2 linked regions of the Homo sapiens genome follow. The protein of the gene in region 1 interacts with the protein of each later gene in a pairwise test. Each region holds a gene or a part of one and is shown in the gene's direction. Other genes may lie near its edges.

Region 1 (3,652 bases):
ATCAGGTGTCTTTAATGATGTAAAAAAGCAAATTCACAGGAAAGGGTAAAAGTTTGCTCTTACTCTGTTTTGTGTTGCTATAACAAAGTACCACAGAGTGAGTAATTTAAAACAAAAAGAAATTTATTTCTTATAGTTCTGCAGGCTGGAAAGCCCAAGATCTAGGGGCCACATCTGATGAGGGCCTTCTCTCTGCATCATAACACAATGGAAGGCGTCACATGGCCAGAGAGTGCACGAGAGACAGAGCGAGGGACGGTGGAACTCTCACTTTTACGACAAAACCACTTCTGCAATAACCAACACACCCCTGTGATAACAGCATTAATCCGTTCATGAAGGCAGACTCCTCATGACCTAATCAACTCTTTTCTTTTCTTTTCTTTTCTTTTTTGAGACACAGTCTCGCTCTGTTGGCCAGGCTGGAGGGCAGTGGCGCAATCTCAGCTCACTGCAACCTCCACCTCCCAGGCTCAAGCAATTCTCCTGCCTCAGCCTCCGGAGTAGCTGGGATTACAGGCATGTGCCACCACACCCGACTAATTTTTGTATTTGTAGTAGAGACAGGGTTTCACCATGTTGGCCAGGCTGGTCTCGGACTCCTGACCTCAGGTAATCCACACGCCTTGGCCTCCCAAAGTGTTGGGCTTACAGGCGTGAGCCACCACGCCCAGCCCTAATCAATTCTTAAACATCCAACTTCTCAACACAGGTCATTGGGGGATTAAATTTCCAACACATGAACCTTGGAACACATTCAAACCATAGCAGGCTCCTTTTCAAATAAATTTATTGCAGCAAAAAAGTGAACCAATTTAAAGAAAAGTGTGAGGCACAGGGCCAGGCAAAAGTGGTAACAATGGGCCGGGTGTGGTGGCTCACGCCTGTAATCCCAACAATTTGGGAGGCTGAGGTGGGCAGATCACTTGAGCTCAGGAATTTGAGACCAGCCTGGGCAACATGGGAAAACCCCGTCTCTACAAAAAATATACAAAAATTAGCCAGCATCGTGGCAAGCGCCTGTAGTCCTAGCTACTCGGGAAACTGAGGCACGAGAATCGCTTGAACCCAGGAGGTGGAGGTTGCAGTGAGCCGAGATTGTGCCACTGCACTCCAGCCTGGGCGACAGAGCGAGACACTGTCTCAAAACAAAAAAGGTGATAATGATGTCTGAGAAACGCTGATCTTCCATTCGGCCCTCTGTGAAATGAGGCCTGGATGGAAAGACGGTTCCAGGTAATTTCTGCTTTTGTTCCTGTAGCACAGAAGTCAGAGAACAGAGAAGCCAGGTTCCCTTCTTGGGATAGGGGATGGGAGAATGCTTGACACAAAAATAAAGCCCTCGAGGTTATCCGCTTTCAACCAGCTGCCTTGGAGCTGGCAGCTGCTGCTCATTCATTCAGTCAATCAACAAACATTGCCTTGGACACTGTGGGGGACACAGGGCTGACCCAGCCATGGGCCCTGCCCTCTAGGGTTTTCTGATCTAGGAGAACACATTTTTGTCTTTATGCATGAGAAAGTGGTTTTCCAGACCCAGAGAGAGAGATGATACAGAGCAGAGCTAAAGCCCCCCTGCCCCACACACATCACATTCACACACACAGTCGTAATCACATATGCACACAGTCCCTCACACACACTCATATGCACACACCTCACAGTCATACACACTGCAGCCATCATTCAATCCCCCTCCCCCACCCCATGTAGTAACATTGAAAACTACGCAGGAGCACTGGGACGGTTGCTGTGGGAACCGGGATTCTGAAATCCTAACTTGTGGGCATCTGAATTCTTGCGCTGAACATTCTAATACATCAGCCACAGAGTTTATGCTCTGAATTTGGAGTCATTTCTCCTCCAGGGGCTCAGGCTGGGCAGCCAGCCAGGGAGTTAGCGAGGACGGCAATTAGAGGGCTGAAGACTTTCTGCCTGATGATGAAGAGGCCCACACGGTTTCCTGGAGAGGGCTGTCTGCCAGGGTGTGCACGCGCACATGCACAAGCTCAGGCTCAGGGGGTATGTCCGTGGAATCTGCTCAGGTGAAGCTCCAGGAATGTGTAGTGGTCATGTCCGAGTCTTCAGGCTCTGTATCGGTCAGGCCGGACTAGGCAAGGCTGTAGCAACAAGGACACCCCCAAATCTTCATGGTTTAACATGATAAGGGCTTACTCCTTACTCACACAAAATCCAAGCTGGGTCAACATCCCCTTCCCTCTTGCAGTTCCTCCGCAACCCAGGGCCTCTAATATCCTTCAACAGGGAAGACGTAAATGGAAATGGCTCACTGCCTCTTCCCTGCTTTGGCTCAAAAGCAGGCAGACGTCTTCTGCCTAGGCTTCAACCAGCCCAACCTAAGTGCAAGAGAAACCAGGAAATGCAGAGGAGTTCATAGGCAACCACAACAGTCCCTGCCCCAGAGCCTCCCTTTGTGCTTTGCAAGCCCAAACATCCCAGCCCAGAGGGGAGGCAAGTCCTTGGAGACAGTTTAAATCCGGGCTCTGCAGCTTGCTCACTGGGTGGCCTCAGGCCCACGCATCAGTTGGGTTCCCACCAGGAAACCTAGAATAGGAATTTAAAGGGGACTTATTTACAGAAGAACTATTTACAAAGGGTAATGCAGTAAGTAGAATCTAAGAGCAACTTCTGGCCAAAGGAGACACAACCAGGGAGTGGTCAGTGAGTCCGAGTAGGAGACAGTCAAGGAGAGGTCACCTTGAATAAGCAATGTCCTTCACATGAGGGACACAGCCTACCCGAGGGACCTCACAGGGGGGGCCAGAGGAATAAGTGTCACATCTTCGCTCTCCTCACTTCTGCCTAGCTCTGCTAAGGCTCCCCATTGGCTGAATCTGACAGAAGCCATAAGGCCCAGGAAGACAGGGGTTAATCCAAACAGATCAGCCTCCCAGGGCAGAATGGATAGTAGCTCTGGTGGAATAAATGGACCCTATCTGGCAGGGACAACTGATTTTTGCTTTTGGAGCCTCCTTTTCCTAATCTGTAAAATAAGAATGCTAACACCTGCCTCATTGCATTGTTGAAAGTAAATGGAATAGGCTGGATGTAGTGGCTCATGCCTGTAATCCCGGCACTTTGGGAGGCTGAGGCAGGCAGATCACCTGAGGTCAGGAGTTCGAGACCAGCCTGACCAACATGGAGAAACCCCGTCTCTACTAAAAATACAAAATTAGCCAGGCGTGGTGGCGCATGCCTGTAATCCCAGCTACTCAGGAGGCTGAGACAGGAGAATCGCTTGAATCTGGGAGGTGGAGGTTGCGGTGAGCCGAGATCAAGCCATTGCACTCCAGCCTGGGCAACAAGAGCGAAACTCTGTCTCAAAAAAAAAAAAAGAAAGAAAGAAAGAAAGTAAATGGAACAATATATGCAAATATGCAAATACCTGTCCTTCATGAATGCTAGTTTCTTAGTGTCTGAAGGCACTTTGCAATCCAGTGGTTCCCAGTCCAGGATGTGTCAATTATTCTAAAGTCTGATATGAAATTCTCAAACAAATTCTATAAACAAAATTTTCTTTTTCTAAATCACTCCCACTTTCGAGCTTTTTCTATATGTCAAGTATTTCATAGGCTGTCTCATTTCAGTCTCACAATATTTTCCTAAGAATCATAGCTGAAAAATTGGGACT
Region 2 (3,652 bases), 110 kb from region 1:
ACACCCTTGCCTCCATTTCCCAGGGTGCAGGGGCGGCAGGACCTAGGAGTGAGCCAGAGGCAGGGGCCAGGAGTGCAGGTTACAAAGCCAGCCGCCCTGGGCTGAATTCTGGCCCTGCCGAGTTCTCACTCCCATGCACCACGACAGCCTCCTCCTCTGTAAACTGGGACCCATCATGCAAGTCAACAAATATTCATCTGTAATTCCAAAGCCCAAAAAACATTTGTAAGTTTCTGGCAAATGCATTTGGTGCAAATCCTGACCTGAACGAATGGGAGGCTATTTATAATCTTGACACATCCCCCTTAGTGTGAAACTGCATATGTTTCGCTGCAGACACTGCCATGTGTTTGAAGCCAGGTCTCTCCACACACATGGCGACCGTAAGGTGCCAGCGAGGCGTGGACGAAACAGAAGTCAAGGGCCACCGCCACTGCCTGGGGCCTCCAGAGATGCAGCCAGTGGAGCCAGGATGTCCTATTTTTCAAAAACGCCTGGATCTTGAAATGTGTTTAAAAAGCAAAACAAAATTAAAAGAAACCTTTTTTTTTTTAATTTGGCTCAAAAAATTTTTAAACACTGTGCAGAGCAAATAAAACTCATGGGATGCCGTAATGAGAGCCAAAGTGAGAATTATCCTGAATACTGTGGGGGCAAGAGGAATGAGAGGGACAGGGAGGAGGATATCCTCACCAAGACCTCAGGGCAGGCAGGGCCAAAAATATTGTCTCTGCCAATGCAAAGACAAGAGACGGGAGCTCCAGGGGTGTGATAAGCCGTCTGACTTCTTTAGCCCTGAATTTTGCCTGGGTTTGCCCAGTCCAGGCCCTAAATTGTGGGAGCTGCAAGGGGAGGTGGGCAGGAGAAGGAAGGGGTCTTCAGAGAATTCTCATCCGTAGCCCCAGTTGCTCGGGGTGAGGGGTGGCTGGCGGATAAGGAAACGGCATAGCACTTCCAGGCCTCGGGGGCCTCCTGGTCTGGAGTCTCGGGGATTCTGTCCACAGTTTTGGCAATAGCAGGAGCCTCAGGCTTCATGAGGCTAGGAAGGATGGTGCAGGAGTAAGCTGTAGAGCCCCCAGAGGGGGTCAGGGAGACCCTGAACACAGACCGCAGGGCTCAGGGGATGGAGGGTGCTGGTCTGACCCCTGTGAGAAGCAACTAAAAAATAGAAATAGGTTATGGACCCTCAAAACCTCAATGTTCATTCTGCTCCCTAGATTATAAGTGAAAAACAAACAAGCAAATAAAAAAAAAACCTGAACATATTCATGGACAGGCTGAAAGAATATACACAACACACTCAGGAAGCTTCCAAGTCAGCTGTACATCTCACCGCCCTCCCTCCACCAGCTGCTGAAATCCATCAGGAGCTAAAGATTATAGATCACAGGTGTTTGAACCAGGGGGAAGGTGAGGGACTGTGGAATCTAACTTCCTTACTTTACAGATTAAGAAACTGAGCCCAGAGAGGCTGAGTGGCTTGCCAAGGTCACACAGCACTTCATAGCTAAGTCTTCTCACTGCATGTTTTACTGACTGAACGGAATCACAAGTTCATTCCCTTTGATCAGGATTGCACACCAGGGTGGTGCAGGAATCAATGAAACCTGGGGCAGGCCATCATGGGCTTCCTGCTGGAGGGAAGGGAGGCAGTTTGGGCCTCACTGGCAAAAGCTCAAGACTCAGTGCCAGGCGGCTAGGTTTGAGTTCGGGCCCCAGCACTCATTAGCTGCTTGGACAAGTCATTTAACCCCTCTCAAGTTTCCTGGTCTGTAAAATCGGGACCAAAATAATAGCACCTACTTCATAGCACTGTGGTGAGGACTGGGAGAGTTAATGTGTAAAAGGCCCGGAAGAGTGAAAACTTTTAAAGTGTTGGTGATGGTGACAGTGATGGTGATGATGATGGTGACGGTGATGGTGATGATGATGGTGACGGTGATAGAGATGGAAGGAGAGGAGAGGAACTGCTGCTCATCTGGGGACCAGACAGGCACCCAGAGGAAGGTTCCAGGGCGACACTCTAGAATGCATAAATATCTTTTTTATTAAAGCATTTGTTAGAGCATTTTTTAAAGAATTTCACTTGGTTCTCCAGCTTGTTCAGTCTTTCCTGAGAATGTTCTCTGAGCAAGACCTAGGCTGTTCTGTGTGGAATCTGCCAAGATTGTCAGGCCCAGTCCCTGTCCCCAGGCCTTCAGGGTCTGGCTGCACGAGCGCTTCCAGGTCAGACCCAGGTGGTGTTCATCTCTGCATCTCCAAAGCTGGCACTCTGGAGGAGCAATTGGGTGGCTGGGAGCAGAGAGCATGGGTTTTGGAGTCAGACACATGGTTCGACTCCACCTGCCAGCCATATTACCCGGGACAGGGCATTTGCCCTCTCCTGACATTTATACCAGGAACGTACTCAACTCTCGTGATGGGGCTGTGTGGAAGATTAACAACAATATCTGTGATGAACCATACCGTGGGCTAAGTATGCAGCAGGTGCTCAACAGTTGGCAGCTGCTGTTAATAATGAACGTTGAGTATGATGACTCGGGAAATAGAGATGCTCCTTGACCTACAGTGGGGTTGCCTCTCAATAAACCCATTGTAAGCTGAAAACATCCTAAGTCAAAAATTCATTTAATACCCCGACAAACCCATTGCAAACTTGAAAAGTCGTAAGTTGAACCACCCTAAGTCTGGACCATCTGCGCGAAGTTTCCAAGTTAGGAGAAGGAAGTGGTGAGCCCCATGGCTTGGCTCTCTGTGCTCCTGGACAGGGAATCTTCCCACTGGGAAAGCTCCCCGAGGGTCTGCTGCCCTGGGCACAGCTTCCCCCAGCCCACCCTACTCCACAGATCAGTAGCACCAGCTCTGAGCACTAGGCCAGGAAGCACTGGGCTAAGCCCTTTACACCGATTAGCTCATCTCATCTTCACAACGGCTCTAGAAAGCTAGTCCCATGCTCATCCTCATGCTATGAGTGAGGAAATCGTGGCTTGGAGGCACAGAGACAGGACAGACGTGCTCCCCAGACTCTATAGGCAGGAAGTGGCAGAGCTGATACTCAGAACTGGAGCAGTAGAAAGTCATCGGTGACTGAAAACCCATCCTGAGCTGTGTAGCACTGAAGGGCAGATATTTGGACTCCCACTCCCCACAGGTGGCACTTCAAGCTGCCTTAGCCCTCGAGACTTAGCCAGAGGGATGACTCCTTCAAGGCAGACTGCCCTGCTCCTGATGGGCAGCTGGGATGAGAGGGAGGTGGGAATGAGAGGTCAGGAGTGAGAGGTGAGGGCAGGACAAAAGGGCCTCCTTCCTGATTTCTCTCGCTAGCTGGACATCTCCCTGATGGCCTCCTGAGGCTGCCCTGCCCACTGCAATAGATCAGATGATTGGCTGGGCGCGGTGGCTCATGCTTGTAATCCCAGCACTTTGGGAGGCTGAGGGGGGTGGATCACCTGAGGTCAGGAGTTCAAGACCAGCCTGGCCAACATGGTGAAACCTCATCTCTACTAAAAGTACAAAAATTAGTCGGGCGTGGTGGTGCATGTCTGTAGTCCCAGCTACTCGGGAGGTTGAGGCAGGAGAATTGCTTGAACCAGGGAGGCAGTGGTTATAGTGAGCCAAGATCATGCCACTGCATTCCAGACTGGGCAAGAGA

The links. The genes of interacting proteins can lie anywhere in the genome.
Region 2: the proteins of CD6 (region 1) and CD5 come close enough for resonance energy transfer, tested with the Homo sapiens proteins (one study listed by BioGRID).

The regions. Positions count from the first base shown.
Region 1 is NC_000011.10:61,002,589-61,006,240, forward strand, and holds part of CD6 (T-cell differentiation antigen CD6 isoform 1 precursor), read left to right. Parts: intron 1-773; exon of another isoform or gene 774-2,357; intron 2,358-3,652.
Region 2 is NC_000011.10:61,108,977-61,112,628, forward strand, and holds part of CD5 (T-cell surface glycoprotein CD5 isoform 1 precursor), read left to right. Parts: intron 1-3,652. UniProt on the Homo sapiens protein: Lymphoid-specific receptor expressed by all T-cells and in a subset of B-cells known as B1a cells. Plays a role in the regulation of TCR and BCR signaling, thymocyte selection, T-cell effector differentiation and immune tolerance.